Homo sapiens: one gene and its partners. The protein of the gene in region 3 binds, or shares a complex with, the protein of the main gene of each other region. Each region holds a gene or a part of one and is shown on either strand. Other genes may lie near its edges.

Evidence for each region. The genes of interacting proteins can lie anywhere in the genome.
Region 1: the proteins of GDF5 (region 3) and TWSG1 are in contact, whole or in part, in a crystal structure (PDB 8BWL), measured with the Homo sapiens proteins. Residues at the interface, in NP_000548.2 of Homo sapiens: Glu434, Phe435, Pro436, Ser439, His440, Glu442, Asn445, Val448, Ile449, Leu452, Ser455; in NP_065699.1 of Homo sapiens: Cys26, Lys28, Cys31, Ala32, Ser33, Val35, Ser36, Leu39, Ile40, Cys44, Gln45, Cys46, Arg47, Cys73, Val74.
Region 2: the proteins of GDF5 (region 3) and HJV are in contact, whole or in part, in a crystal structure (PDB 6Z3L), measured with the Homo sapiens proteins. Residues at the interface, in NP_000548.2 of Homo sapiens: Met412, Trp414, Trp417, Phe478, Asp480, Ser481, Lys488, Tyr490, Met493; in NP_001366281.1 of Homo sapiens: Arg95, Arg98, Gly99, Leu101, His104, Ser105, His108.

The regions. Positions count from the first base shown.
Region 1 is NC_000018.10:9,337,773-9,344,794, reverse strand, and holds part of TWSG1 (twisted gastrulation protein homolog 1 precursor), read right to left. Parts: intron 1,785-7,022; exon of another isoform or gene 1,762-1,784; intron 1-1,761. UniProt on the Homo sapiens protein: May be involved in dorsoventral axis formation. Seems to antagonize BMP signaling by forming ternary complexes with CHRD and BMPs, thereby preventing BMPs from binding to their receptors.
Region 2 is NC_000001.11:146,018,714-146,025,799, reverse strand, and holds the start of HJV (hemojuvelin isoform a precursor), read left to right. Parts: upstream 1-4,064; 5' UTR 4,065-4,213; intron 4,214-5,461; exon of another isoform or gene 5,462-5,479; 5' UTR 5,480-5,568; coding exon 5,569-5,665; intron 5,666-6,065; coding exon 6,066-6,625; intron 6,626-7,086. UniProt on the Homo sapiens protein: Acts as a bone morphogenetic protein (BMP) coreceptor. Through enhancement of BMP signaling regulates hepcidin (HAMP) expression and regulates iron homeostasis.
Region 3 is NC_000020.11:35,435,217-35,442,229, forward strand, and holds the start of GDF5 (growth/differentiation factor 5 preproprotein), read right to left. Parts: upstream 3,013-7,013; 5' UTR 2,713-3,012; coding exon 2,082-2,712; intron 1-2,081. UniProt on the Homo sapiens protein: Growth factor involved in bone and cartilage formation. During cartilage development regulates differentiation of chondrogenic tissue through two pathways.

The DNA of each region.
Region 1 (7,022 bases), on a different chromosome or scaffold from region 3:
GTCTGGGCAACAGAATGAGACTCTCGTCTAAAACAAACACACACACACAAAAAAGAGCACTGGTTTTCAATAGGTATTTCCCCAAAGATATACAATAAGCTAACCAGACATGGTGGTGCATGCCTATAGTCCCAGCTACTTGGGAGACTGAGGTGGGAGGATTGCTTGAGTCCAGGAGGTTGAGGTTGCTGTTAGCCGTGATTGCACCACTGCACTCCAGCCTGGGTGACAGAGCAAGATCCTCTCTCAAAAAAAAAAAAAAATACATACATACACACACACACACACACACACACACACACATGCATTCACTAAGCACATAAAAAGATGCTCAACATCATTAGCTATTAGGGAAATGCAAATCATAACCACTCCACAAAGGTGCTACAATAAAAAGGAAAGATAAGTGTTGGTGAGGCTATAGGGAAACTAGAACTCTCATACACAACTGGTAGGAATGTAAAATAGTGCAGCCACTTTAGAATAAACACTTCAGCAGTTCCTCAAAATGTTAAACACAGAGTTGCCATATGGCCCAGCAATTCTACTCCTAGGTATATACAAAAGAAAAATTAAGAGATACATCCAGGGTTGTCTGTAGCAGCTCACACCTGTAACCCCAGAACTTTGTGGGGCCAAGGCAGGAGGATCGTTTGAGGACAAGAGTTCAAGACCAACCTGGGCAACATAATAAGATCCTGTCTCCACACACAAAAAATTTTTTTAATTAGCCAGGTATGGTGGCACACACCTGTAGTGCTAGCTACTTGGGAGGCCAAGGTGAGAGGATCGTTTGAGCCCAGGAGTTCAAGGTTACAGTGAACAATGATTGCACCACTGCCTGTGTGCACAGGCAGTAAACAAACCTGTGTAACACAGTTTATCTCTTAAAAAACAAACAAAGATACATCCACACACTGAAACTTGAATATTCATAGCAGTATTATCTACCATAGCCAAAAATATAAGTAACTCAAATATCCTCCAACCAATAAATGGATAAATAAAATGTGGTATGCCCATTCAGCAGAATATTATTTGACCAAGGAATGAAATACTGAATATGTTACAACACACAGGAACCATGAAAACATTATGCTCAATGAAAGAAGTCAGACACAAAAGACAAGGTATGATTCCATTCATATTAAATGTCCAGAACAAGCATGTAGAGAGAAAGTAAACTGCCTAGGGTTTGTGGGGAGAGAGAATAGGAAATGACTTCTAAAGGGTATGGAGTTCCCTTCTAAAGTAATGAAAATGTTCTGAAATTAGATTGTGGTGATGGTTGCACAAGTCTGTCGATATGCCAAAACCACTCAATTGTACCCTTAAATGGGTAAATTTTATAATATATGAATCATATATCTCAATAAAACTGTTTTTTAAAAAAAATCTAACAGAGAATCCATCTTAGATTTATACTAATAAGAGTTCCAGAAAGAAAAGAGGACACTATACATAATTATATATTATACAAAAATATAGTTATATAAAACGTATATATTATATATGTATGTATGTTAGGACAAGATATATATATATATATATATATATATATATATATATATATATATATATATAACAAAAAACAAAACAGGGCATTTCCTAGTCTTTGGCTCAAAACTGATCCCCAAAAGACTCACAAGATACCAAACAGAATGAATGAAAAGACCAACACTAGACTCAACAGTTTAAATTCCATAATATGAAGGCTAATGAGATGATACTAAAAGTTTCTAGAGAGAATAACAAAGTTACCTATAGAGAATAAGAAACAGACTGGCATCAGACTTCTTATTGGCAATATGGAATGCTATTAGATAATAGAGAAATGTCTCCAAAGTTCTGAGGGAAAAGAATTTAACATAGAATTCTGTATTCAGGCAAACCATCAGTCAGGTGAAAGGTGAGAATAAATACATCTTCAAGACATGCAGGACCCAGAAAGCTTACTTTCCACACAGGCTTTCTTAGGAAGTTACTTGAGGGCATGTTGGGACAAAATAAGGGTTACTGTTAAAAACAACAAGATACGAAATCCAAGAAACACTGGAACCAACTTGGGAAAGTAATGATGGAAAGTCACCATAAGACAGCTTGCATCAGACCTAGATTGCAATCAGTTAAGTCTGGAAACATCAAGACTGAAGGCTCCATTTGGGAGGAAAAATACATTAAGTACTTAAAACAATATAAGGTGCTAATGATTGATGATACAAGGTAAAGAAAGATAATTAGAAACTCAAGAAAAACAAAATCATTCAAGAAGGGAAATGTAATCATAGTACCTATGTGACTACAGTCAACAGTCAACAATATTTATATAATCATTACAATATAAACATGGTTTATTGCCAGTTTTAGAATATACCTGTAAATAAAGCATTAGAAGATTCAAATAGAGTTACAAAACAGAGAAATAAGGTTAGTAATTACCTATAGTGCACTCACGTGCCAGGCATTGCTCTAAATACTTTACACCTAATCCTCACAATACTCGCACAGTATGGTTATTATCCCTGCTTTACAGATGAGGAAATTGAGGCATTGAGAGATTAACTAACTTGCCCAAGGTCATACAACCAGTAAGTGGCAGAACTGGATCCAAATTCAGATAGCCTGGTTCCAGAGTTCATACGCTTAACCATTATACTATGCAGCCTCTCAGAATGTAGATGTTATCAACCTTGACAATATAAAAGTAAAAGTACAGGTAACACTCCGTTCCCCACAGATTTTGATGCAGCCCATCAGAATTCCAAAAGTAGCCCATCAGAATGCCAAAAGTAGAAAATTTCAAGGGCAGTACTCATAAATGCAAGGGAAAAAACTGATTTCTTTGCTTTCTATGATGTTAAACATGGTAGCTTCACATGATCTCCCAAGACTGGAACCCAAACAAACCCTCTCTTCAATTCCCTCAAGAAATGCACTGTTCTTAAAACTCACTTATAGTCTGTCTCATTGCTAAAAAAAAAAAATAATAAAATAAAATAAACTTTAAAAGGAAAGGACTATTAATATTCTCCACTTACATCAGGAATAAAGAGATAGTGTCTCCAGTTGATAGAACAGAATAGAAAACCTTAAATATATTGAAGAAATTGAAAAAATAACCAAGAGATAAACTCAAAACTGTGATACAAGTGTGGCAGGGCAGGAGTGGGAAGGATGACATGATGAGCTATGACCTTATCTGTTATAGCAGAAAGGCAATTTTAGATATATAACATCTAAAACTGATGAATCAAGAAATAGTAGTACAAGCATATTATTTAGGCATATGGCTAAAAATTACTAACAGAAGTAAAAATATAAGAGTTAGATTAAAAGCGGTTTTCCCAGGGTAATAGAATGAGTAGGGAGAATTAGATCAAGAGATTCAATTTTTCACTATGTAGCCTTCTAATAATTTAATAATTTATTACTCTGATGAAAAAAAGAGAACATTTGACACATACTAGTTGGTTTCTTTCTTTAAAACTGCCTAGAACTAGAAGAAAATTTTGAGCTCACCTAGCCAGCCAATTCACTTTACAGTTTATATGTGGCAGAGTGTATTTTCCACAGATGGCCACACCATTATATCCCATCCACATGTTCAGCTTACAACATGACACTGTCACTCCTCCAACAGAGGTGGGGCCTATGTTCCCTCCACTTAAATCCAGGTGGACCTGCAGGAGAGATCATATAGCAGGATCACAGAGACACACACATATATACACAGAGAGAGTGAAAGGGAGAGAGGGAGGGAGATGGGGATAGAGAAGGGAGGAAGGGGAGGAGAAGTCAGGAAGAGACGTATACCTGAAGAATCTTCCCAGCCCAGGTATTAGACTTTATCAGTGAGCCTTCAGATTTTCAATGTCCAATACGTGGCCACTAGTCATATGCAGCTATGCAGCTAATGAAATTGAAATTGAATTAAATTTAAAATCAGATTTTCAGCCATACTAGTCACATTTCAAGTACTTGGTAGCCACGTATGGCTAGATTCTACTGTATTGCACAGGGTAGATGTAGATCTTTTCCATCATCGCAGAAAGCTCTATCTATAGTGCTGTTTCAGATAATTCCACCCCCACCACCTTCAAGCCGCCTTGCTAATGCCACGTGGAACAGAGATGAACTCTTCCGCAGAGCCCTGCTCAGAATGCAAATTCGTGAGCAAAATAAATGCTGTTTCCAGCCACTGGTTTTTGGGGTGGTTTGCCACACAGCCATAGTAAGAGGAACACATGGAAACTAAAGATCAGAATGTGAAATAATCTGCTAGAGTTTGGGAGTCCACAAAACTAGGTGAAGAGTGGAACTAATCACATTTCATTTCAACACTCAATAAATGTTTGTGAATAAACAAACAAGAAAATCCTCAATATTTGAGCCCTAGATCTTTTCTTTTTTTTTTTTTTTTTTTTTTTGAAATGGAGTCTTGCTCTGTCGCCCAGGCTGGAGTGCAGTGGCATGATCTTGGCTCACTGCAAGCTCCGCCTCCTGGGTTCACGCCATTCTCCTGCCTCAGCCTCCCGAGTAGCTGGGACTACAGGCGCCCATCACCACGCCTGGCTAATTTTTCGTATTTTTAGTAGAGACGGGGTTTCACCATGTTAGCCAGGATGGTCTTGATCTCCTGACCTTGTGATCCGCCCGCCTCGGCCTTCTGAAGTGCTGGGATTACAGGCTTGAGCCACCGCGCCCGGCCCAGCCCTAGATCTTTTCTAAATCCAAGTAGTCTACCATCCACCAGGATAGTTGTGTCCACTACTCCAGAAAAAAGTTTGATGTTTCCTGGCTCTGAAGCTACAACGGAATATCAGAAATGTCAGCATCCATGAATTTGTGACTGAAAATACGTCCTAGCTGATTTTGTTTACTAGAATCACCATTTGAGTTAGGTGAAGCTCCATTTGCTTTTCCAGTTTTTTTACACTGATATAGTACTCTTTACATTTTGAAGTATTTTGTTTTTTTACAATTTTTTTTTTTGAGACAGAGTCTTGCTCTGTCGCCCAGGTGGGAGTGCAGTCGCACGATCTCAGCTCACTGCAACCTCCGCCTCCTGGGTTCAAGTGATTCTCCTGCCTCAGCCTCCCAAGTAGCTGGGATTACAAGCATGCACCGCCATGCTCAGCTAATTTTTGTAATTGTAATTTTTTAAATTTTTTTAATGGCCAGGCACGGTGACTCACACCTGTAATCCCAGCACTTGGGAGGCCGAGGTGGCAGATTGCTTGAGCTCAGAAGGTTGAGACCAGCCTTGGCAGATCGCTTGAGCTCAGAAGTTTGAGACCAGCCTTGGCAACATGGCAAAACCCTGTCTCTACCAAAAATACAAAGTAAATTAGCCAGGCATGGTGCCACGTGCCTGTAGTCCCAGCTACACCAGAGGCTGAGATGGGAGGATCGCTGGAGCCTGGGAAGTCAAGGCTGTAGTAAGCTGTAATAGAGCCAAAAAATTTTTAAAGAGTCAAACAAACAAAAAAACCTTTACAAGTATCTACCCATATTAATCAAAAGCTTTCTCTTTTAAATACTCCCTTTAAAAGCAAGGTATTTTAAATAAAGTACAATTTTTTTTTTTTTTGAGACAGGGTCTTGCTCTGTCACCCAGGCTTCAGTGCAGTGGCACAATCATAGCTCACTGCAGCCTCAACCTCCTGGGCTCAAATGATCCTCCTGCCTCAGCCTCCCAAGTAGCTGAGACTACAGGTGTACATGATCATGCCCAGCTAATTTTAAAAAAACTATTTGTTGTAGAGACAGGGTCTCACTGTGATTCCCAGGCTGGTCTGAAACTCCTGGGCTCAAGTGATCCTCCTGCCTCAATCTCTCAAAGTGCTGGGATTACGAGGCATGAGCCACTGTGCATGGCCAAAGTACAATTTTTAATTACTTGAACTAATGCAAGTTATAGAGTTGAAGAGTCAAGAATATAATTTGGAATTTAAGAGAATTTCCATCTAAACATGAATACAGCAAATGTTATGAGACTTTATTGTGAATAATGAATAATGAAGCTACATTGAAACAATCTGGGAGGTACCACAGACTCCTCATCTGACCATAGCACAAAACTGGGCTTCATTTGCAGACACAAAGTTTCCAGCCAACACAAGCCTAAGCAGGCGTGCCTTATTAAGATTTCCACATACAAAATTAGGTGATTAAAGAATTAGTGTTAATTTTTAAACTGTAAAATTGGTCTAATAGCTATGTTGGTAAAGAGTTCTCTTTTAGAGATACATATTAGAATTATCAACAAAACAGTATCAAGGGATTTGCTTGAAATTAAAACAGCTGGGAGTGAATAATGTAGGAGGGTATAGATAAAATAAGAGTAGCCATGAGGTAGTGACTGCAGTAACTACTCATGGATGGTTCATTATATTCTTCTCCTTTTATACCTGAAAATGTCCACAGCGAAAAAGTTAAAAACTGAACAGCAAACACACTTCTCTAGTTAAATGTTTTGGTTTGAAATGCAAAGTTAGGGTTATCAGAGTACGAAATGGGGGCAAGTAGAATTCCAACTATTAGCGAGAAGGACCAAAATGTCAGAAATAAGCACAAAATGCTTCTGATGTATAAAAACAATTGTCACTCTAGCACATATACACAATTACTCTCAAGTGAGGGTTACAGTCATGTTAGCTGACTCATACTTTACATAGAATGCTAATGTGTGTGGCTACTGAATTTCTGAGTGCACAGCCTGCAACTAGAAAGGAAGCTAATCAGGAGTTCAATACGAGCCTGTTAACTTAGCCACATTACTTCCTCTTACTTTTCTCCCCAGAAAAATGAGAGTGGTGGCTACATTAAGAGGCCTGCCTTGATGATTGGAAGAGATATAACTTCGAAGTATCTTGAAAGCAGATTGTCCAATCCCAGCCAACAACTTGCCTGCAACATTGTGGGAGACCCTAAGCCACAGCCACCTGGCTAAACTGCTCCCAGATTCCAGGCCCTCAGAAACTGCATGAAATAATACATGTTTATTGCACTAAGTTGCTATG
Region 2 (7,086 bases), on a different chromosome or scaffold from region 3:
TTTAGAGACTAGGAAAAAACAAACAAACAACAAAATCAGCCCTCACTATTCTAAACTGTAGTTCAGAAATATCCAACAGAAGCTGAAACTCTATAAGAGGTTCCTTTTAACCTCTCCTTAGGGAAATGGTCCCATAATTCCTTTGGGGCATTCTCTCCCTTGCTACAGCAAGCCAGTAGATTTAACTTTTTTGACTACAGATTTGTTTCCAGTGGTGTTTAGTTAATGAGCTTTGACAAAGATAATGGTCAAATTTCTCCAATATCAATTGACTATGTGAAGAATATACATATATATACACACACACACACACACACATATTTGTGTGTGTGTATGTAATATATACATATTTATATAAGAACATATTGGCAGGGCGCAGTGGCTTATGCCTGTAATCCCAGCACTTTGGAAGGCCAAGGTGGGCGGATCACTTGAGCCCAGGAGTTCGAGACCAGCCTGGCCAACATGGCAAAACCCCATCTCTACTAAAAATACAAAATTAGCTGAGTGTGATGACACATGCCTGTAATCCTAGCTACTCAGGTGGCTGAGGCATGAGAATCACTTGAACCCAGGTGGCAGAGGCTGCAGTGAGCCGAGATCTCTGGGTGACAGAGGGAGACCCTGTCTCAAAAGAAAAAGAAAAGAAAGAACGAACCCAGGTCATTTGTCCTGTAGAGTATTCACAAAGTCTGAATTTGCACCTTTGAGTTACCACTTAATGTCTCCTGTATTTCCTGTAAATTAGTAGTTAGCTCTAATCAGATTCAGACTGGTTTGTTTGTTTGTTTGTTTGTTTGTTTGTTTTTGGTATGGCTACTTCATGCAAGGTGGAGTTATGTACTCTATGATCAGGAAAACATGTTTATCTCTGTTTTCATGATGAATAACAGCCACTGTTTTTTTGTTTACGTAGAGATGGGCTCTTACTATGTTGTCCAGGCTGGTTTTGAACTCCTGGGCTTAAGCAATCCTCCCACCTCAGCCTCCCAAAATGCTGGGATTACAGGTGTGAGCCACTGTGCCCTGCCACAGTCATTGTTGACCATTGCCTAGATATATTAATTCATTTGGATTTACAAAATGTTGATATTCTAATTATATTATCCCTTCTTCAATTATTTACTGGAATGCTTCTATAAAGAGAAATTTCCCCCTCATCTTGAGATACAGTTCCCAAAAGAAAACCAGGATAAATACTTGATTCTTTCCAATTACCAGCAGTTTTTAAAATAATGAGTTGATCTGCCAGCATTCTCCAACAATGACCAATGGGTTTGTATTTTTAAGTATCATTGTGAATTCATGGATTTAAACATATTTTATGAATTTCAATCCATTGCAGATAGTATCCATTTTGATACTTAAATTGCCCCATCTTTGGCCAATGGGAACTATTCTAGTTGGCTCCTAAGTTCTTTTATTACAATCCTAACACTCTTTGAAAGCTTCCTTGCCTATCTTGGACAATACCTGCCCCAAACCTGAAATCAGCCACTTATCCAAGGAGTTGTTTGTTGGTCCCTTTTAACAGAAAATGGTATTTACATAGCACAATTTGAGTACTAGAGGTGTTTATTTTTACTGGATCATTGTTTCCAGGCCTTTTTAGGGTAAAGCTAGGAAAATTTTAAGGATAAAATAAACCATGAGTTCAGAGTTATATTTGCAATTTAAATTCAGAATTACGGAGTTTTCTCTTAACTTCATCAATCGTAAATATGTATCTCTTTATTCCACCCCAAAAATTCTGGTTCTCAGAGACACTAACATTATTAATCATTTGTTTTATCTCATAACTAAAATAATCTCAGAATAACAATACCAACACTAACACCATAATATGGCTATTTAAAAATATTTTTGCATTTATTTTCTGGCATTATAGTATATCCCACTTAGGCTGTCATAGTCAAATTATTATGTTTTAAAGTCACTTGAATAGTTTGGTTAGAAGCATTTTACATTTCTATAATGAAACTGCTTGTGATATGGCCTCTAATGGTTGAGAAATATTTGTCATATATATATACCTGAGAAGTATATATTTGACAAAAATATTTGTCATATATATACCTGAGAAGAGTGCTATGAGGGCCTCTAGACTCTGTATTAAAATAGAGCCAACTGGTAAAGATGGCTTAGTGATTGTGTTGGTTATTACTGAGTGTCAATTTGATTGGATTGAAGGATACAAAGTATTGATCCTGGGTGTGTCTGTGAGGGTGTTGCCAAAAGAAATTAACATTTGAGTCAGTGGGCTGGGAAAGGCAGATCCACCCTTAATCTGGGTGAGCACAATCTAATTCACTGCCAGCACAGCTAGAATAAAAAGCAGGCAGAAAAATATGAAAGGAGAGACTGGCCTAGCCTCCCAGCCTACATATTTCTCCCATGCTGGATGCTTCCTGCCCTTGAACATCAGACTCCAAGTTCTTCAATTTTGAGACTGAGACTGGCTCTCCTTGCCCCTCAAGCTTGCAGACAGCCTACTGTGGGACCCTGTGATTGTGTAAGTTAATACTTAATAAATTCCCCTTTATTTATATATCTACCTATATAGATATCCATATCTATATAGATATTAATAAATCTAGAGAGACAGAAAGCAGACTGGTGATGGCCAGTCTAGATGGCTAGATAGATAGACATGGATATAGATATAGATCTCTATATAGATAGAGGTAGATACAGATATAGATATATGCCCTATTAGTTCTGTTCCTCTAGAGAACCCTAATACAGTGACCGTATTTGGAATCGGTCCTTCTGTTAATTTCACTTGGCAAGTACTAAAAGATGATGATCTCAGATATACCTATGGCTGCAAAAACATGACATGGCTAAATCCCTTGGTTGCAGTATCTCTTTTCTTTTTTAAGGGGGGTGGGGGGGCGGGTCTCACTGTTGCCCAGGCTGGAGTGCAATGGCGTTATCATAGCTCACTGCAGCCTCAAACTCCTGCGCTCAAGTGACCCTCCTGCCTCAGCTCCCAAAGTGCTGAGATTTTGCAATATTTATGGTCACAAGATTATGTTATTCCATAAAAGTATCTTTCTGAGGCTAGGCATGTTGGTTCACACTTGTAATCCCAGCACTCTGAGAGGCTGAGATGGAAGGATTCATTGAGGCAAGGAGTTCAAGACCAGCCTGGTCAACATAGTGAGACCTCATCTCGGAAGGAAGGAAGGAAGGAGGGAGGGAGGGAGGGAGGGAGTGAAGGAAGGAAGGAAGGAAGGAAGGAAGGAAGGAAGGAAGGAAGGAAAAGTATATTTTTGAATCTTTTTCTATTTCTCCAACTCTTTCTTTAGAAGAATTCTATTTCCATTCTTTCTTCACCTCTTTGCCTTTGTTAGCCTTCTCTCCAAGCAAATCGGGAGCCTTTATTTTTTGTGTATTCATGAGGGAGAGGAAGATGAATTGCTGTACAAACTAAAGTAATGAAAATGGAGTAGGTAGGAGGATAGACAGCTGCAAGGATCTGAGCTGGATAGACTGAACAAACCCTCATCCTAAGCAACTCACAGCTCAGATTTCTTCTCTGGACAGCTGGCTTTTTTCGTCCTTCTGAAATACTCTGCAAAGATAGGAGAGGGGCTATGAACTACCTCTGCTATGGATCTTATTCAAAGTCAGCTACCTCCTAGATACTATCTGTAGAACCTAAATGTAATATTCAGCATAGCAGGGATGAACATGGTAAATGAAAGGTATCCAATTGCCCACTGTAATTTTTAAAGGCCAGGAGCTCAACATTATTGAAAATGCTGGAGGGCTGCCTGGAGTAGGCAGTGACCACAGAGTCACACAAGCTGGAATTGGATATCCAACTTGTCTGTCATATTTCTCTCCTCCCTCCCTGACTTGGCACTCAATACTCCATATTCTTTCTAATCCTCTAACCCTCCCCACTCCCCCAACTCCCACACCCTACCCCCACCAACGTTCCTGGAATTTTGGACTTAGCTATTTTTAAAACCGTCAACTCAGTAGCCACCTCCCTCCCTGCTCAGCTGTCCAGTACTCTGGCCAGCCATATACTCCCCCTTCCCCCCATACCAAACCTTCTCTGGTTCCCTGACCTCAGTGAGACAGCAGCCGGCCTGGGGACCTGGGGGAGACACGGAGGACCCCCTGGCTGGAGCTGACCCACAGAGTAGGGAATCATGGCTGGAGAATTGGATAGCAGAGTAATGTTTGACCTCTGGAAACAGTAAGTCAAAATGAAATTGCAATTCCTTTAATAAGCTTTTATATTGAAGTTAGACTTTTATAAAATTACAAACACCTACTTGGATGTCTCTCGTCCAAATGCTGGGATCTCTCCCTACCAAGGTGCCCCAATCTCCATTTCTCTTTCTGTCTTATTTCTTTCTGGCCTCTGGCCTCTAGCTTTTTGAAGTTTAATTCTCTGTCTCTCCTCTGGCAGTCTTAGCCCTCTCTTTACCTTATTACCTCAAGACTCCTGATGAAGTTTTAGAAGGAGTTCCCTACGTCCTCTATTCTGTAGTTTTCTTACCAAGGCCAAATATGACCTCAGATGATGAGTCACTGATACCCTTCTATCCTGCCCCCACTTAGCAATGCCCTTCACATTGAGATTCCAAGCATGGGGGCTGCTCCCTGTAAATGATTTCTCCCCACAACTCTAGTCCCTCCATTCTATTCTCCCTCTTGCAGGACTCTTCCCCCAATCATATCCTTACCCATAAGATAGGGGAGTTAGGCAGGAGGGATTTAGCCCCTCTCCAACTCCTGTCATCATAAAAGACTGAGAACTTCAGAATTTGAAAAGAAGAGATTAATGGAAGGAGTGATATTTGGGAAAATACAAGAACTGTTGACTTAGAAAAAACAAATATTGATTTGCATGTTTGGTTTGCATCCCATTATTCCATGAGAGAGGGAGATTAAAATTGCAGCTCTCTAGAGCTGATGAAAAGAGATTGGTTTCCTTTTCATTTGAATACTGATATTCTAGACGGGATGGGTATGCCACCCTTAATCCTTCTTGTGTTCTGACACAAAGGAGGAAAAGAAATGTATGACTCCTAGAGGGCATCTCCTCCTAATGGAGAGGGACAAATAAGAAGTATGTTTCTGAAATATTTTCAGGTCCTAATTTTACTAGGGTACCCACTAGGATTACTGGTATCTGATCTAGCCCCATGATTCCTCCATCTTTGACATACCTGCTGTTTGGTAGCTCAGAATGGAGCAATACAGTGGACTCTGCCCCCTTGAGTTCACTCAACCTTCCCTCCACCCCCACCTAGGGGTATTGCACAAGGGCCCTAAAAGTGGCCACAGGAACAGGGCAAAGAGGCTTAACTGCCACACTTATAGTTTGAGGAACTCCAATCTCCCCAAATTCCAGTCTGTTCATCCTTTTCTTGATCTCCCCAGATTCACTCCACATTATCCTTACCAATCTTCAATTCTTCTCTCTCTCCATGTCCAGCCAAATTTCTTTTTTCAGTCACTTACAGGGCTTCCGGTCAAAATTCACTAGGTAGGAGGGTCATCAGCTGGGAAGAACCGGCGCCTGGGAAACCTGGCTGGATAGGTATGGGGGAGCCAGGCCAGTCCCCTAGTCCCAGGTCCTCCCATGGCAGTCCCCCAACTCTAAGCACTCTCACTCTCCTGCTGCTCCTCTGTGGACATGGTAAGGAAGGGCCAGGGAAGGGTTTGGGGAAATCTAGAGGGTAGGCTGCTATGTAGGGGTGGGCATGTGAGCCTGAATGAGTGAGGAGAGATAGGCGCTGAGAGTCCCGATCACTCGCCCTGCTCTCAAATACTAATATTTTATTTCCCGTTCAGTCTGGGGAAGGCCACTGGGGAAGCCCTTGGTCGACAGGCAGAAGAGATGTGGCAGGCTTACACACTTTTAGTAAGACAGCCGAGAGAACTAGGGACTAGGGGGTTGGGGGCTGGGGAAGGCCCTTAGTTAGGTTTTAGGAAGGCTGGAAACCCCTGATGAGATTTGGAAGAGTTATGAGCAAACTACACTCCGATAGAGCAGAGGTCTGAGGACCGTCTCACAATCCTCTCCCTTCTGTCTTTAGCTCATTCTCAATGCAAGATCCTCCGCTGCAATGCTGAGTACGTATCGTCCACTCTGAGCCTTAGAGGTGGGGGTTCATCAGGAGCACTTCGAGGAGGAGGAGGAGGAGGCCGGGGTGGAGGGGTGGGCTCTGGCGGCCTCTGTCGAGCCCTCCGCTCCTATGCGCTCTGCACTCGGCGCACCGCCCGCACCTGCCGCGGGGACCTCGCCTTCCATTCGGCGGTACATGGCATCGAAGACCTGATGATCCAGCACAACTGCTCCCGCCAGGGCCCTACAGCCCCTCCCCCGCCCCGGGGCCCCGCCCTTCCAGGCGCGGGCTCCGGCCTCCCTGCCCCGGACCCTTGTGACTATGAAGGCCGGTTTTCCCGGCTGCATGGTCGTCCCCCGGGGTTCTTGCATTGCGCTTCCTTCGGGGACCCCCATGTGCGCAGCTTCCACCATCACTTTCACACATGCCGTGTCCAAGGAGCTTGGCCTCTACTGGATAATGACTTCCTCTTTGTCCAAGCCACCAGCTCCCCCATGGCGTTGGGGGCCAACGCTACCGCCACCCGGAAGGTCAGGCACTCAATCTTCCTTCCGATCCACCTCATGAGATTCTTCCACGGGCACCATTCCTCCCCATCCCCACTATTCAACAGCAATGCTCCCTAATTCCCTTTTCTTCCTCAACCTCTCCCCCATCTCGAATCACTCCCTTCTACCAAACACCTGGAGCTGTAAATCACTTCCCCTTGATGGGAATTTGACTCAAATGCAGAAAACCTTGAAGAGACAGTCGGAGAGGGCGGACCTGAGGAGTTTCAGAAGGGAAACTTTTCCCTCTCCTAGGAAGTTGCCACGATTAAGTAGAGAGGGGGTTAAGTAGGGATGAGGTAATACTGGAACATAAATAGGAGAAGGGATCAAGGATTGAGGGCCATAGTAGTCCTGCATCTCTACTTGGATCAGATCTCTAACTATGTATGAGGTCTGATTGGGGGGAAGATGCACTGAACCCAAAATGAACTGTTTTCCCT
Region 3 (7,013 bases):
GAGGTGGGTGGATTGCTTGAGCTCCGGAGTTCGAAACCAGCCTGCACAACATGGTGACACTCTGTCTCTACAAAAAATACAAAAATTAACCAGGCATGGTGGCGTGCACATGTAGTCCCAGCTACTCAGGAGGCTGAGGTGGGAGGATTGATTGACCCCAGGGAGGTCAAGGCTTCAGTGAGCCGTGAATTCGCTATTGCACTCCGGCCTGGGCAACAGAGAAAGACCCTGGCTAAAAAAAAAAAAAAAAAAAAAAAAAAAAAAAAAAAAAAAAAAAAAAAATACACGCTTTTCCAGAGGAGAATCCCAAGGTTCAGAGAAGTTAGATGACTTGCTCAAATTCTCAGCTGCTTCCACCATCCCTTAAAGGAGACCTTGGTGCTCTTGTTATGCAGATGAGGCACAGAGATGGGGAGTGACTTGACTAAGGTCACACAGCAAGTTAATGACAAAGCTGGTCCACACTGACCTACAGCCCAATTTTCCTGGCTTTCCAGTGCAAGGATTTTGTTGCCTATGTGTCTTACTCTCCTGAGCATGTGTGTGTGTTACAGTTGTATGCATGTGTGTGATTGGGTTCATATGTGAATATGAAAGAGTGTATACGTTAATGACGCATTATATGTATAAATGATTGGGCTTGTGTGACTATTTGAAGAGCACATATATGTCTGTATATGCATGATTGATCTTGTGTGTGTATGTAAGAAGGTGTGTGTGCACATGCATATGTGTGTGATTCGGCATGTGTGTACGTGTGTGATTCAGCACGTGTGTGTGTGAGTCAGCATGCATGTACATGTGTGATTCAGCATGTGTGTATAAACATAAGGCTATGTATGTGTATGTGAGAAGCTCAGTAGTATCTCCGAATCAGCATGCCCTCCTTCCTAAATTGCAATTTGCCATTGGGGAGCTTTCATATATTGCTCTAGAAGGTGACTAATTAGGCCTTTAAACTCCCCATCTCCCCCTCTCCAAGCTCCCTTAGTGCTGGGGGGCACACGGACTTATTTTATGAGCCCCCAAGGGGTCACAGCTTTCCCTGGCTGGGCAGGCAGCCAGACCACCTCCCCCACCTCAGCCAGACCTGCTGCCTCTGTGCCTCCCCCGCCCCCTGGCAGCCCCCTCCAGGCCAGCTCTAATGAGGAGCCTCTCCCACCCTCTGACCCCTCCCCCACCCTGCCAGCCTAGGACCAGAGCAAATGAGCTGCAGGCAACTTGAGCGACCAACAGCCCACCTCCCTCTTCACACTAGGAAGAAACTGAGGCCCTGAGAGGGGGAGGGACTTGCTTAGATCACACAGCAAGTGGAGAGGAAAAGCTGCAACAGTAACATTAGGTGGGCCGAGAGAGACAGAGGGGAGCAGGTAGTCTCTGGAGTTAATGAGGAGAATGAGGCATGTTCAGGACAGCATCTAAAGTTTTCATGTTGGAAGGGCTCTCAGAAACCACCCTGTCCAACCCCATATAGGTGTACAGATGGGAAAACGGAGACCCCAAGTGAGAAGGAGCTTTCCCAAGGTCATACTGCGAGTTAGGCCCTGGGTCTGCTCCCTCCCCATGTATCTGAACATCATTCCATGACTCCAAGATGCCCCATTTACTGTGTGCACCTCTCTTGCCTCCTCTATCCCCTTGCCTGAGGGCAAAGTTGCAGAAGCATGGGGACCTCAAGATTCATTTCTTTCTCTGCCGTCTGAGACCGCCTACAAACCTGTGAAGCTTGGAAAGTTCGGCCAGCCCAGCAGGTACAGATGCACAACTGAGCAATCAAGTCTCGGAATCTGGTCTCCAACTCTGCCACGAACTGGCAGGTCTTGTCTCTTCTCTAGGCTTTAGTGCCCACTCTGCACCTTGCAGGCGTTGGACCTGGTGCTTCCTAGGTGCCCTCCAGCCCTGATGTGTGGGCAGCCTAGGATCTGCTATGTGTGAGATATGTGTCAGTGTCCCCAGACACCCACCCCGGGCCAGATGCACACAGTGTCTCCCACCAGGGCAGTGCCAGGGCTTTGAAAGCCCCTCCATTCATGCAGATGCCCCTCCCTCTGAGCCGTGCCCCTGCCACCCCGCCCCCTCACCTTGCCCTTTGTCAATAAAGCTGGTGATGGTGTTGGCCAGGCCAGCCTCCAACTTCACGCTGCTGTTGCCTCCCTTTCTGTCAGCATCGGACAGCGTCCTGTACAGCGAGAGCATGTACTCGTGGGGTGTGATGGGGGGTGGGCGAAACGGCTCCTTGGGCTCTCGTGGGGGCCCGGGCTCCCTGGCCTTCTTCAGCAGGAAGGAGCTGGGGACAGATCCTGCTTTTGGGGGTGCCTTGCCTCCGGGAAGCTGTCCTTTTGGGGTCACAGTCCGGGCTGTAGCCTGCCTTGTTTGGGGAGGGTGTCCTGGCTTGGGTTCAGGGCCGCCCGGTCTGGGGGGCAGCTTTTTGGGTTCATCCTTCTTGGGCTGTGTCAGGCCTCCTGTCTGCCCGGTGCCTCCCTTTGCCCTGGCATTGGCATTGGTGGCCCCCCCACCATAGCTGTGACCCCCTGGCCTGAAGACGTTCCGGGCCAGGGGGGGCCTCTCCTTGGCCTCTGCTTTGGCCAATCCTGGCCTGGTCCCCTGGGGTCTCTGGCCCAAGTCAGGGGCACCCAACACAGTGCAGATGAATTCCAGGTCCAGCCAAGCCAGGTACCAAAGCAAGAAAGTGAGGAGTTTGGGGAGTCTCATCCTCTGGCCAGCCGCTGAATGACACCAAAGAGAACAGCGGCAGCAGCGAAGGTGCCTCTGGTTTGGCAGGAAAAACCATGAAAGGAGTGGACTTTCAAAAGCAGCGGCAGCAGCAGTAGCAGCAGAAGGAAAGGCTTTCTCCTCAGTCTGAGACTCTTGAAGTCTGCCGGGTGTGTGTTTGTATCCAGTCCCATAGTGGAAATGCTCTCGTATCCAGACGTGCACCGTCTCCAGTCAGCAGCTGAAAATAACTCGTTCTTGAAAGGAGAAAGCCGACCGCCCCCTTTCTCCTGCACAACTGACTGAGGGCTTGAAGGAGGCTTGTATAAGGCTGAGGGATTTTTCCAAGAAGGAAGAATGGCGTAATGCTGCCTGTGTGCTCCAGTTTTTTTTTCCCCCTAGTTTTGAATCCTTTCCAGTGAAAATACTTCACACACACACACACACACACACACACACACACTCACAGGCCTGCAGGTGCTCAGAAAAATCTTTTACAAACCTGAACTCAGGAATTGGAAACGGAATTCCAACCCAAACCAATTTAATTACTCTCTGATGTCATGCTGTCTAAACTCATTTAAGTGCGATATATTTATGTGAAAAAAATCACCGCTGCCCTTTCGAGGCCATGGCTCACGGGGGCTCCTGGCACAGAGCCCTGCAGCGGGACTCTAGGCTTAGGGGGCCTCCCCCTCCACAGGGCAGACTCAGGGGTCTTCACCTCCACCTCATGGAGCAGCCCACCCCACTTTCCCGAGGAGAGATGCTGAAGAATGAGCTCAAAGATCTTAAGCCCCAGAAGCATGGGGAGTGTGGGTTTGTAGTTAAGTTCTTAGAGTGTTTTTAAAGCAGTTTCAACTCCTGCATCTAGTCTGGGACCTGATTTGTTATGCGTGTGTGTGTGTGTGTGTGTGTGTGTGTGTGTGTGTTTATGTGCCTGTGTGTGTGTGTGCCTGTGTGTGTGTGTGCCTGTGTGTGTGTATTGGGAGTAGGGACAGCACAGATGGCAGCATTTACCCACATTTTCTTTTATTTTAATAAACTTGTGGTGACCCAGAGACTGAAAAATATCAGTGCCCACTACACCCCCTCCCTACCCCCAAATGCCATTGACTGAGTGCATATTCTTCAGGCTTGGGGGCACTGTCGCCCTTAAGTTCACTCCTTGGATGGCGGCAGGTCCAGGGTGTACCCCACCACCACCCCAGCAGAGACGTCCTCTGAGTTTTCTTAGACAAGACTGGCTGAGTCTGGGGCAGCAGCGGCCCCTACAGGAGGCTGGAAAAGCCATTTCCCACATGACGCTTTTTTTTTTTTTTTTTTTGAGACGGAGTCTCGCTCTGTCGAGTGCAGTGGCATGATCTCAGCTCACTGCAATCTCTGCCTCCCAGGTTCACGCCATTCCCCTGCCTCAGCCTCCCCAGTAGCTGGGACTACAGGCCCCTGCCACCACACCTGGCTGATTTTTTACGTTTGTAGTAGAGATGGGGTTTCACCATGTTAGCCAGGATGGTCTCGATCTCCTGACCTCGTGATCCGCCCGCCTCGGCCTCCCAAAGTGCTGGGATTACAGGCGTGAGCCACCGCGCCGGGCACAATTTCCCACATGATGTTTTTCTGGTAGCTCTGGAAGGTCTGAATTCCAGCTGAACTCAAGGGTTTCTTAAAGTGCCTCATTGAAGTATGGAAGATCCCTTCCTCTGGGGAACCTTCGCCGTAGAGCCCCTGGGCAACTTAACACAGGGTCAGCGGGGAAAGCTGTTCGCTTCACCTGAAATATCCTCCTCTCTCTCTCCCACAACTGGAGGAAGCACTCTACATCCTGAGAAGTTTAGCTGAAAATTTACCTCCTTCGGGAAGCCTTTCCTCGTCCCCAGACAGAGCCAGTTACCCCTTCTGTACATTTCTCTACAACAACACTTTTCACGCTGTAAGAAGGATGGCGGGGGAGAAGCAATAGTCAGATAGGCTTCCTTCTTTTTTTTTTTTTTTTTTTTTTTTTTGAGACAGAGTCTCACTCTGTCACCTAGGCTGGAGTGCAGTGGTGCGATCTTGGCTCACTGTAATCTCCACCTCCTGGGTTCAAACGATTCTCCTGCCTCAGCCTCTCGAGTAGCTGGGACTACAGGTGCACACCACCATGCCTATCTATTTTTTGTATTTTTAGTAGAGACGGAGTTTCACCATGTTGGCCAGTCTGGTCTCGAGCTCCTGACCTCAAGTGATCCACCCACCTTGGCCTCTCAAAGTGCTGGGATTGCAGGCATCTCTACCAAAAATACAAAAAATTAGCCGGGTGTGGAGGCAAAGGTTGCAGTGAGCCGAGATCGCACCACTGCACTCCAGCCTAGGTGACAGAGCTAGAGTCCATCACACACACACAAAATAAGTAAATAAATAATATTAATAAAATAAAAAAATTAAAAACAGACTTGTTCCCACTGAACCAGTCCTCTCTGGCATCCCTCCCTTCACTCCCTCCTCACCACCTCTGTCACTGCCCTGTCCTCCTCATTGCTTGCCTCGCTATGATTCTCCCCTATAACTGGCTTCTAGGCCTCCAGGCTCTCTCTGGTTCAACCCTCTACTAAAAGCTACCCATCAAACAAGTGCCAACCCACGTGCCACCTCCTCCATGAAGCCTTCTTGCATCCTCCAGAAAATGCACACTCCCCCTGAGCTGCCATCACACATTTTCTGTGCTCTTTTACATTTTTTGGCAGCTGAAAGTTTATTCAGTCTCTGCCTCTGCCCCCTATCCCAACACAGTTTGTTTCTTCCACTCTGTATTTTGTCATATTTTAAAATCATAACTTAATTCCTTATAACTATAATAATTTCTTTACATACCTGTCTCTCCCATTAGATTATGACTAGACTGTGCCATATTTATCTTTGAATTATACCCAGTGCTTGGCAGAGGGCCCAGCCCACAGCAGCTCTCAGTACGTGTTATATGAATAAATTAATCTCTAACTGGCCCTTATTGACAAAAATCATCATTTTCTACTTTGAGGTGTAGTTATTTGTGGACATAACCTGCCTTTCCCATTAGACTCTAAGTTTCTTGAAGGGAAGAATTGTCTTGCCACTTCTTAAGCATTTTGTAAGCTCAGAGAGTGAATAAATGAATGAGTTGAACAACCACAATGTCTCTGTACGTGGCTTGATAAAGAGCAAGGATTCTGGAGACAAACAGACCTGGTTTTGAAGCTTGGTTCTGCTATTTATGTATTGTGTGATCTTGGGAAGCCTCTAAACCCCTCTGAAACTCTAAACAGTGATAACGATAGTGCTTACCTCACAGGACTCTTGTTGGAGATTCAATGAAGTAAATTGCGGCCAGGCGCAGTGGCTCACGCCTGTAATCCCAGCACTTTGGGAGGCCGAGGCAGGTGGATCACGAGGTCAGGAGATCAAGACCATCCTGGCTAACATGGTGAAACCCTGTCTCTACTAAAAAAATAAATAAAATTAAATTGCATAAAGTGATCAACTATTAATGGCAATTGTTAATGATAGCTTTTTTTTTTTTTTTTTTTAGATGGAGTCTCACTCTGTCACCCAGGCTGGAGTACAGTGGCATGATCTTGGCTCACTGCAACCTCCACCCCCCGGGTTCAAGTGATTCTCCTGCCTCAGCCTCCCAAGTAGCTGGGACTACAGGTGCGTGCCACCACGCCCGGCTAATTTTTGTATTTTTAGTAGAGATGGGGTTTCACTGTGGTAGCCAGGATGGTCTCGATCTCCTGACCTTGTGATCTGCCTGCCTCGGCCTCCCAAAGTCCTGGGATTACAGGTGTAAGCCACCATACCCGGCCAATAATAGCTATTTTTTTTAAAGCACTTATTCCAGTCAACTAGACTCTGGGTTTTGTACTCCATTGCATTTATGTGTTATTTATCTTCATGACAATGCTATGAAGGTAGTGGTTTTCATTGTTGTTTTTTGAGACAGGGTCTTACCTGTTGCCCAGGTTGGAGTGCAATGGCGTGATCATGGGGCTCAGGTGATCCTCCCACCTCAGCCTCCCAAGTAGCTAGGACTACAGGTGCACATCACGATGCCCAGCTAATTTTTGTATTCTTTGTAGAGACAGGGTCTCACCATGTTGCCCAGGCTGGTCTCAAATTTCTGGGCTCAAGTGATCTGCCCGCCTTGGCTTCCCAAAGTGCTGAGATTACAGGTGTGAATCACCACATGTGGCCGAAAGTAACTTTTTTTATTTTTTTGAGATGGAGCCTCGCTCTCTCACCCAGTCTGGAGTGCAGTGGCGCAATCTCAGCTCACTGCAACC